2 linked regions of the Homo sapiens genome follow. The protein of the gene in region 1 interacts with the protein of each later gene in a pairwise test. Each region holds a gene or a part of one and is shown in the gene's direction. Other genes may lie near its edges.

The links.
Region 2: the proteins of SLBP (region 1) and ERI1 interact in a two-hybrid assay, tested with the Homo sapiens proteins (one study listed by BioGRID).

The regions. Positions count from the first base shown.
Region 1 is NC_000004.12:1,692,082-1,695,475, reverse strand, and holds the end of SLBP (histone RNA hairpin-binding protein), read left to right. Parts: intron 1-635; coding exon 636-702; intron 703-1,762; coding exon 1,763-1,879; 3' UTR 1,880-2,745; downstream 2,746-3,394. UniProt on the Homo sapiens protein: RNA-binding protein involved in the histone pre-mRNA processing.
Region 2 is NC_000008.11:9,026,592-9,033,838, forward strand, and holds the end of ERI1 (3'-5' exoribonuclease 1), read left to right. Parts: intron 1-3,200; coding exon 3,201-3,443; 3' UTR 3,444-5,957; coding exon of another isoform or gene 5,958-6,020; 3' UTR 6,021-6,747; downstream 6,748-7,247. UniProt on the Homo sapiens protein: RNA exonuclease that binds to the 3'-end of histone mRNAs and degrades them, suggesting that it plays an essential role in histone mRNA decay after replication.

The DNA.
Region 1 (3,394 bases):
CTGAACTTTTGCTGCATCATGGCAATACCTGCTGACCAGGAAGGTAGAGAGAATGATCGTGTACCTCCCTCCCTCTATGTGGGGTTTCTTCTCAGCTCCCCTCTGGTCCTGAGCCTCTCGCTTCCTCAGACACATTCTTTAAACAAACAATTAGAGTTTCTCCTCTGTGCTGGGAAATTTTTTAGAGACTGGCATGTTTGAAACGATTGTAAGTGGCTTTACCAGTTTGTCCTGACAGATGTCATTTGGGTTTTTTCCCCCAGTGTGACACCATTGTCCCATTCTCTGAGTAGAAACTTGGAAAAATTAGTGATAATGCATAGTATGTTCATCACAGTGCTCATTTCTCCCCCTCAAAAATTGGGCTTATGAGTGTTTCTGTTTCCAAGGATGCTTGTGTGGTGAGCCCAGCAGATCTTTTTGTTGCTTCTCATTGCCATCCGCTTTCTCTTTGCTGGATTGATTGGGCTGGGATTAAGTCTGTCAAATAGTCACTGAAAGCTGACCCCTCAGGGAGCCTCGGGCACACTGTCAGTGTTGTGGCTGTACCATATGGATGGGGTTTGTCTGTAGCGCCCCGTCTCCTGGCTTTGTTAAGTTAGTGCCTGACGCACATGTTGGATCTTGTTTAACAGACACCCTGTAGACCTTGAATCTGCAGAAAGCAGCTCCGAGCCCCAGACCAGCTCTCAGGATGACTTTGTAAGTACTTTGGATAAGTCTTTCAGCTTGGGGGTTGCAGGTGAATTGTTAATAACACATGCTGCCTTATAAACTGAAGTTTGGACTGGGCACGGTGGCTCACGCCTGTAATCCCAGCACCTTGGGAGGCCAAGGCAGGCGGATCACCTGAAGTCAGGAATTCAAGACTAGCCTGGCCAACATGGTGAAACCCTGTTTCTACAAAAATACAAATAATAGCCAGGTATGATGGTGGGTGCCTGTAGTCCGTGCTACTCAGGAGGCTGAGGTGGGAGAATAGCTTGAACCCAGGAGGTGGAGGTTGCAGTGAGCTGAGATGGCGCCATTGCACTCCAGCCTGGGCAACAGAGCAAGACTCTGTCTCAAAAAAAAAAAAAGAAAGAAAACCATGTGCTGCGCGTGGTGGCTCACGCCTGTGATCCCAGCACTTTGGGAGGCTGAGGCAGGCAGATCACCTGAAGTCAGGAGTTCAAGACCAGCCTGCCCAACATAGTGAAACCCAGTCTCTACTAAAAATACAAAAACTAGCTGGGTGTGGTCATGCAGGCATGTAATCCCAGCTACTCAGGAGGCTGAGGCAGGAGAATCACTTGAACCCGGGAGGCAGAGGTGGCAATGAGCCGAAATTGTACCACTGCCCTCCACCCTGTGTGACAGAGTGAGACTCTGTCTCAAGAGAAAAGAAAACCGTTTTTAAATGTATCAGTTTAAATACTGTCTCCTGTCCTGAGACAGCCACTATTTGTGGTTTTGTCTAGGCTTTTACAATTCTTTCTGTGCTTATAAACTATGTACATGGCCAGGCACAGTGACTAGTGACTCCTTCCTGTAATCCCAGCACAATGGGATGTGTGCACATCTAAACGTCAGTGTCTTGTAAATGGTACATGTGGTTTCTCTTTGCAGTGTTATTATTAAAATCTGTCTCAGTTGCACGTGAAGTGTACACCTTGCTGTGCATTACATCACATGATTTACCACATAAGGAGTGGGGTGTAGGAAGGGGCCCCTGTTTTCAGGGTGAGATGAATGTCAACCGAGCCATGCTTCTGTTTTCCAGGATGTGTACTCTGGCACACCCACCAAGGTGAGACACATGGACAGTCAAGTGGAGGATGAGTTTGATTTGGAAGCTTGTTTAACTGAACCCTTGAGAGACTTCTCAGCCATGAGCTAACTGCCCCCTGGCGGCCAGGAAGAGAAACAGCTCCTCCCCGACTAGGTGGAAGGCTGGCCAGGCACCAAGCATGTGTGTGCACTTGTACCTGGTGGTTTCTCTGTTAGCAGTCCATTAGCTCATGCTGAATTATTTTTGCCTTACTTTCTTAAGAAACATTAATTTTATGTATAGTGAGTATATTTTGCATGTTTTAAATTGTAAATGGAGCTAAGTCCAAGAAAGTACTTGAAGCTCTCTTCCAGCGAGCTTAATTGCGTAATCCCTGTTGTCCTCCAGGGTAAGCTGACACGTCTACATAACTGGTTTTCCACAGGCATCTTCAGTTATTGCTTGTCAGGTGGACTGTTTTGGATTTAACCATGTAATCCATGGGACCAATTGAGAGTCAGCTACTTTTATAGGCATCAAAGTATTCTCAGACACCTTTAATATCTTTATGGAAACTTAATTTTTGGCCTTTTATCAATATGTCATAACAGCATTCTGAAGTCAGACATTGTTAAATTGAGCTATTAAACTAATGAGTTTTATGTAAGTTATATGGTCTTAATTTGGTACTTGTAAATAGCACTAGTTAGACTCTTTAGAATACTCCAAGAGTTAGGGCAGCAGAGTGGAGCGATTTAGAAAGAACATTTTAAAACAATCAGTTAATTTACCATGTAAAATTGCTGTAAATGATAATGTGTACAGATTTTCTGTTCAAATATTCAATTGTAAACTTCTTGTTAAGACTGTTACGTTTCTATTGCTTTTGTATGGGATATTGCAAAAATAAAAAGGAAAGAACCCTCTTTCACTGACTGGGGCTGTTGCCAGGTGGGCCAGCTGCCGTGAGAGCTGACATGTTTGGAGGGTCAGAATTGTGTCTGCCTTTCTTGTGTCTGAAGCAAGTGGCACTCAGTGAGTGGCGCTGGGTAAAGGGCCTTCTTTATTTTTTTAATTTTATTTTTTGAGAGTTTCGCTCTTGTTGCCCAGGCTGGAGTGCAATGGTGCAATCATGGCCCACTACAACCTCTGTCTCCCGGGTTCAAGCGATTCTTCTGCCTCAGCCTCCCAAGTAGCTGAAATTACAGGTATGTGCCACCACACGCAGCTAATTTTGTATTTTTAGTAGAGACAGGATTTCTCCATGCTGGTCAGGCTGGTCTCGATCTCCCGACCTCAAGTGATCTGCCTGCCTCGGCCTCCCAACGTGCTGGGATTACAGGTTTGAGCCACTGCGTGTGGCCGGGGGCCTTCTTTAATAGGTGTCACATGTCACATTTGGTCTGATGCTTATTCATCAGCACTGGCATGACAGCCTTCCCTGTCTCTTGGGAGAGACCCTGCAGCAGGATAATCATCAGTCTGAGGGTGCCCTGCTCCCACTGCCTTCACCCTTGGACCGTGGTTGCTGCCTGCAGACGTGACCACTAGTCCACGCCACAGCGACCTGTCCCGGAGATCCCTCCAAGTGATGCTGGGCTGGTCTTAAGCCAGGGATGGGCTCAGGTAACTTTGTTCTAGGAG
Region 2 (7,247 bases), on another chromosome or scaffold:
TGTATGTATTTACGGGCTGAGTATACCTAATCCAAAAATTCAATATCTGAAATGCTCCAAAAATCTGAAACTTTCTGGGCACTGACATTGTACTCAAAAGAAATTCTCATTGGAGCATTTCAGGTTTTGGAATTTTGGATTTTCGGATGAGTGATGCAAAAGTGGTGTAATGTAAATGTTGAATATTTCAAAATCCAAAAAATTTCAAATCCAAAGCACTTCTGTCCCAAGCATTTCAGATAAGGAATATTTAACCTGTACCACGTTAAAAAAAAAAAAATCCATTGATTGTTTGATGGACATTTAAGTTACTTCCATGTTTTGGCAATCATGAATAGTGCTGTTATGAACATGGATGTACAGATACCATTCTTCTTCCTGTATAACCAGAATAGGAGTTGGTGGAGCATGTGCTAATTCTATGTTTAATTTTTTTGAGGAATCTCCACATTGTTTCCCACAGTGGCTGTACCATTTTACATTCCTGCCAGCAATGCACAAAGTACTACATTCTCCACATCTCTGTCAATGCTTGTTATTTTCTGGTGTGTGTGTGTATGTGTGTGTGTGTGTGTGTGTGTGTGTGTTTATGGCCATTCTAATGGGTGTGAAGTGGTATCTCATTGTGGTTTTGATTTGTATTTCCCTAATGATTAGTGATGTTGAGCATCTTTTCATGTGATTTTTAGCCATTGGCATATCATGTTTGGAGAAATGTCTATTCAGATTCTTTCCTCATTTACTAAATGAGGTATCATGATGTTTTGAGTTGTAGGAGTTCTTTATTCTGGATATTAATTCATTATCAGATATATACTTGCAAATGTATCTTCTGTTCCATGGGTTGCCATTTCACTCTACTGATAACGTCTTTAGTAATAAGGTTTTTAATGTTGATGAAGTCTACTTTATTTTTTCTTTTGTTGCCTGTGTTTTGGTGACATCCAAGAAATCATTGTCCAATCCATTGTCATAAAGCCTTTTCCATATGTTTTATTCTAAGAATTTTATAATTGAATGTCTTACATTTAGGTCTTTGATCAATTTTAAGTTAATTTTGTTATATGGTGTAAGGTAAGGGTCCAACTTCATTCTTTTGCACGTGGATATTCAGTTTTCCCAACACCGTTTGTTGAAAAGGCTGTTGTTTTTTCCCCATTGATTCAATGTATTTGTGAAAGTTTATTTCTAGACTCTCTTCGGTTTTATTAGTTTGTATGTCTATACTAATACCACTCTCTTTCAATTACTGCACTCCTTCCTTCTGTTAATGCTTGTGTTAACATTATTTTTTAAATGTTGAGCCATCCTTGCATTTCAGGATAAAATCCTACTTGGTCATGGCACATAATTGTTTTAATATGCTGCTGATTTAAATTTGCTTATATTTTGTCAAGGATTATTGCAACATGATAATTGTAGGGGATATTGATCTGTAATTTTCTTTCCTCATGAGGTCTTTGTCAGGCTTTTGTATCAAAGTGATGCTGACCTTAATGGAATGAGTTGGGAAGTATTTCTTCTTCAATTTTTTTGTAGTAGTTTGAGGAGACTTGGTTCTAATTCTTTAAATATTTGCTTGAATTCAGCAGCAAAGCTATCTGGTTCAGCGCTTTTCTTTGTTAGAGGTTTTCAGTTACTGATTCAGTCTCCTTCCTAGGTATAGGTCTATTCCGATTTTCTGTTTCTTTGTAATTCAATTATTGTTAAGTTGTGTATTTCCAGGAATTTGTCTCTTCTACCTAAGTTATCCAGTGTGTTGGGCAAACTATTTTTAGAAGTGCGTTTTCCAAGTGATAATTAGTGGAAGGTACAGGGTATATTGCAGTATTACAGCTTAAGATAATTATAGGTGTTTTACATCATTTGCTTTGTGATTATCCCAGTAACCCTATGAGTAAATATTAGAGCTGTTAGTCCCATTTTACGGATGAAGAAGCTGAGGTCCAAGATGCATAGGCAAAATAGTTGTACAAACTACAGAATGTAAAACTTAACAAATCTTGATAGAAATATGAAGAAAATATAACAATTTTTTTTTTCTTTTTTTGAGATGGAACCTCACTCTGACGCCCAGGCTGGAGTGCAGTGGAGTGATCTTGGCTCACTGTAACCTCTGCCTCCCGGGTTCAAGGGATTCTTCTGCCTCAGCCTCCCGAGTAGCTGGGATTACAGGCGCACGCCACCATAGCCAGATAATTTTTATATTTTTAGTAGAGATGGGGTTTCACCATGTTGGCCAGGCTGGTCTTGAACTCCTGACCTCAGGTGATCCACCTGCCTTGGCCTCCCAAAGTGCTGGGATTACAGGCGTGAGCTACCACACCCAGCCAATAATTCTTAAAAGTGGAGGCACATATTGGAATTTGGGGAGTGTGAGAGTTTTTTTTTTTTTTTTTTTTTTTTAACTTATCAAGGAACAGGTTTTTAAATAACCTGAAAAATACCACACCACATCGTCTTTCATTCTTAATCTTCATTATCTTTAGCCATCCAAAAAGGCTAGTCTTTTTATCTAAGAAATCAGTCAAGTAAAGTAATACACTATAGAAAAATACCATGTAAAATAACTAACTTGGTTTAAAAATAAAAAGGTAGATCTTCAACTTACATGTCCTGAACAATACATTCCCTTTAATAAATTATTTTTAAATTAAAAAACTGCAGAGTTTTTAGATGTCTGAGGATCCTGTCTGTATTTTCAGCTGAAACTCTTAAGATCATATTTTAAAGCTCTGAAAATTTCAGGGTTTTTTTGATGGAGTCTCGCTCTGTTGTTCAGGCTGGAGTGCATTGGCATGATCTCAGCTCGCTGCAGCCTCCACCTCCCAGGTTCAGGCAGTTCTCCTGCCTCAGCCTCCCAGGTAGCTGGCATTACAGATGTGCACCACCACGCCTGGCTAATTTTTTTGTATTTTAAGAAGAGATGGGGTGTCACCATGTTCGCCAGGCTGGTCTCATACTCCTGACCTCAAGTGATCTGCCCACCTTGGCCTCCCAAAGTGCTGAGATTACAGGCGTGAGCCACCTTGCCTGGCCTGAATTTTTTATTTGCCTTATTTGAGTGGGGGTATTGCCCTTTGCCTAGCTTTATTTAGCTGTTAGTGCTAATTTTCAGTTTCTTATTTTTCATCTTAACTGTGGCTTATATTACAGTTTAGAACACCAAAGAATTATTTACTAAGCTGTTTATTTTTCAGGTTCCTAGAAGCCAAACCAAACTGACAATAATGCTTGAAAAATTAGGAATGGATTATGATGGGCGGCCTCACTGTGGTCTTGATGACTCTAAGAATATCGCCCGAATAGCAGTTCGAATGCTTCAGGATGGGTGTGAACTCCGAATCAACGAGAAAATGCATGCAGGACAGCTAATGAGTGTGTCCTCTTCCTTACCAATAGAGGGCACTCCACCACCACAAATGCCACATTTTAGAAAGTAACAACAGTTTTGTGTGTGGATCATTCCAATTGAAGTTGCTATGAAGAGGTAGCAGATGAATCTCATTGAATTAGTCCTGTAGTGCAAACTTTAAGCACCTTAAAACATTTAAAATCTTATTACAGGTGATAGAGATAGATACATGTATGTGAACAGATTTTGTAGGAAGGCATACTGAATTCTTTGTCACCAGCACTTTTGATATGAACAGTATTCGTTACATAGTAACAGTTCCTGCTTACAACTGAATTTTATAATTTAAGGTGTTCAAGATATATTCTTTTTGGTTTTAAAATGCAAAATCTTATTGGCTGTTCTGTTGAATGTCATATCTTACTGGTGTTTAAATATGTAATGTGTTTCTTTATTAACATCACTAGATGAAACCATATCTTAAAATGCAGAAATGATTGGAAGGTAGATCTTATCTAGCCTTTGGATTTCAAGAATATCATAGTCCTTTTGATTTTCAAAGTTTATATGTGAAGTTCACCATGTATGTGGTGAATTTCGTAAGGTACTTGGTATACATATCTGCCTATGTTTCTTTTCAACTCATAATTGGAAGAATTATGATGGATTATAGGGTTTGGTTAAAAATCCAGTTACTGAAGGAATTAATGAAAACGTAGAAGAAAGTACTAAAAGGAATATCATAAGGGCTGTAGCTCAAACTTCATAATACATAAATCACTGGGGTCTTTTTGGATTTGGTTGTTTGATTCGCCTTCCTTTTTTGACATATGTATGCCTTAATTCTTAAATCTGAGGGACCATGCTTTGAAATAGACTGAAAATTAAGGGTCACCACCTAATTTTACTTTGTATTCAGTATCGTAAGTGAGGTTAATAAAGTCAATACTTTCTACCATATATTACGTTTTTGTTATTAAAAAACTTCATTGGCCACTAGTGAAGTTAGTCAATAAAAGACTTGTTTTTCTGATTTTACATAGTAAATGGCTGCTAAGTATTGAGTAATTCTTAACTAATTCTAAAAACTAAAATGTGCATTTCGACTTGATAAGGTAAAACTCTTATCTAGAGGCTAAACCCATGTATTTTCAGAATTGAATTTTTCTCCTTGTAGCTTTCAGGGAACAATTTCATTGACATTGCTTGCTTCCTGCCTTTTACCTTTTAATAAAAATTGTGATGCTACTTTATTCTAAAGATTTATATTTTATAACCAGATGAATTTCCTCAAAGGTTTCCAAACCTATATCATATAGGGTGAAAAGCAGGAAAGTAGACATTTTTCTTGGCGTGGGAATTCTCTACATAGGGCAGTAGATTTCTTAAGCCAATGAATTTCTGCTTTTCAGCAGTAGTCATATAATCAGTATCATAAAGAATAATGTGTAAATAACAGAAGGCATATGAGAGTGTGGTGTTCCTAGATGAACTGTTACAGATTATAGTAAAATAAGGAAATCTAAGTGCTTTAAGTTTATACAGTTAACTCTTAGGATAAGAGGGATGTATGCTGAGATGTTTGTGCATCCCAGATAGCACTGTACAATAACCTGTAAAGTATTACTGAATACTGAATAGCTGAAACTGCAATTGGAAAATCTGATGATGACGAGGAAATATTACGTTTCCAGTTTTTTTAGCTCTATCTGCTAATTTCTTTGCCTGTTTTCACTTTCGCCAAGTACCAACAAGCTCATGTTGTATTTCTTTTTAAGAACTTCAACATTATAAGCTCTCAGTACCCTATTTTGTTGTTGTTGTTGTTTGAGACAGAGTTTTTGCTCGTCTGCCAGGATGGAGTGCAGTGGTGCGATCTTGGCTCACTGCAACCTCCGCCTCCTGGGCTCAGGTGATCCTCTTGCCTCAGCCTCCTGAGTAGCTCAGATTACAGGCGCGTGCCACCACACCCGCCTAATTTTTGTATTTTTGGTAGAGGCGGGGTTTCACCATGTTGGTCAGGCTGGTCTTGAACTCCTGACCTCAAGTGATTTGCCCACCTTGACCTCCTACAGACGTGAGCCACTGCGCTCAGCCATAGATTTTACTGTCTTAACCCATTTTAATTCCTCTGTTGAGTCTCTGTCCTCCCCTCCAATTTGATTTGGGATTTTGCTGATGAGATGATACTAAACATTGAGAGTACTGCTTTTTACTCTGACTTTTATTGTGTTGTCTTTGAAAGACAAATAGTACAACTTTTTACAAGGAAACACGTAAGAGATGGATGTCCATGAAAACAATATTAGTATATTCTATTATTGTTTCTTATTAATAGTTACTTAGTATTTACAAACAATTTATTATTAGCTGTGTTAACTTTTATTCTATGCTTCATATGCTCTGACATTGACATAGTGGATTTCTGCTGATTTTTTTCAAATCCGCAATCTTTATAACCAACTGAAGTATATAATAGAGCATTACATTTTATCTTTATTTGTGTTCTGTTGGATCAAGTATTTAACATTTGCTCTGAAAAAAATGTTTTTGTGATGTGTCTTTGTTGCCTTGAGATAGATCCATTTATCCTGCCTCCTAGGGAGAAGTTTCTGCCTGGATTGAAACAAAAAAACACAGGCGTCACAAGCATGTTACCTATTAAGAGAGAGAGGGTATCTCTGAAGACTAATTAAAATGGTAATTTTTAAAAAGATGTGACCAGTTGACTTTTAGTATATCATCCCAAGTATTATCCCCAAAATGATAATGCAAAACAGAATAATTTGGAGACCAGGAGAAAAACTGGTATGATTACTGGGGAGGGGAAGAAGCACAGGTGGTCAAGATAATAATGCATGTTTGGCCTCAGCTGTAGTTGCCAAAGAAACTACCTGCCTCACAGATGAGCACGCACGGGTGCATTGTCAAAGTCTGAGAAGGATGTATTGTACTTTGAAGGAAGACTTTCCATTTCTAAGCTACCATGGAGAAGTATATGCTCCTCGAGACCAGAGACTGTGACTTCTGCATCTTTGATTCCAGCGACATATGATAAAATGTTTTGCACATAGTTGAATCCAGCGTTGATACATGAAGGACAGCATTACATCTTTTTTCTATTATACTTAGAAATTTCCTCTTTGTTCTGCACCACCAACCTGTATATCAAGCCTCCTTGCCCCACAAAGCTTCCAAAGCCCGTAAATTTGTTAATCTAGAGCAGGGGTCAGCAAACTACCACCCATGGGCCAAATCTGGCTGCTGCCTATTTTTGTATGGCCTACAAACTATGGTTTTTATATTCCCTTTTGTTAATGGCTCAAAATAATATTTTGTATAATACGAAAATTACGAAATTTTAGTTTCTCTAAATAAAGTTTTGGAAAGAACTACCATTCTCATTTGTTTTCATGTCATCTCTGACCACTTTTGTGCTACAATGGCAGAGTTGAATAGCTGCATCAGTGGCACCATCTGGCCAGCAAGGCCAAAAAATACTACTGTCTGGCCCTTTATGGAGAAAGTTTGCCTACCCTTACCTCCCTTATGTAATGCAATATATAAGTTCCATCAACAAACAAGAAATGCGACTGTGATGAGAGCGTAGAGCTGAATGTTAAGGTACAATGATACTTGCATCAGACATTTATGGAGCACTGTTAAGTACTTTACTCCATTGTTTAGTAAGAATCTGGTGATGGAGAGAGGCATTCTCTGCAGTTTACAGATGGGAAAGTTGAGGTCCAGAGCGGTTAAGTTGCCAAAGTTTAAGTAGTGGGAGCTGTAGATTCTGGCAGTATGGCTTGAGCCTTGCTCTTTATCTCTGTGCTATGCTGCCTCCCGTTGTAGACTTTGGCTTAACCTGATATTCCAGGAACAGGTAGGTTGT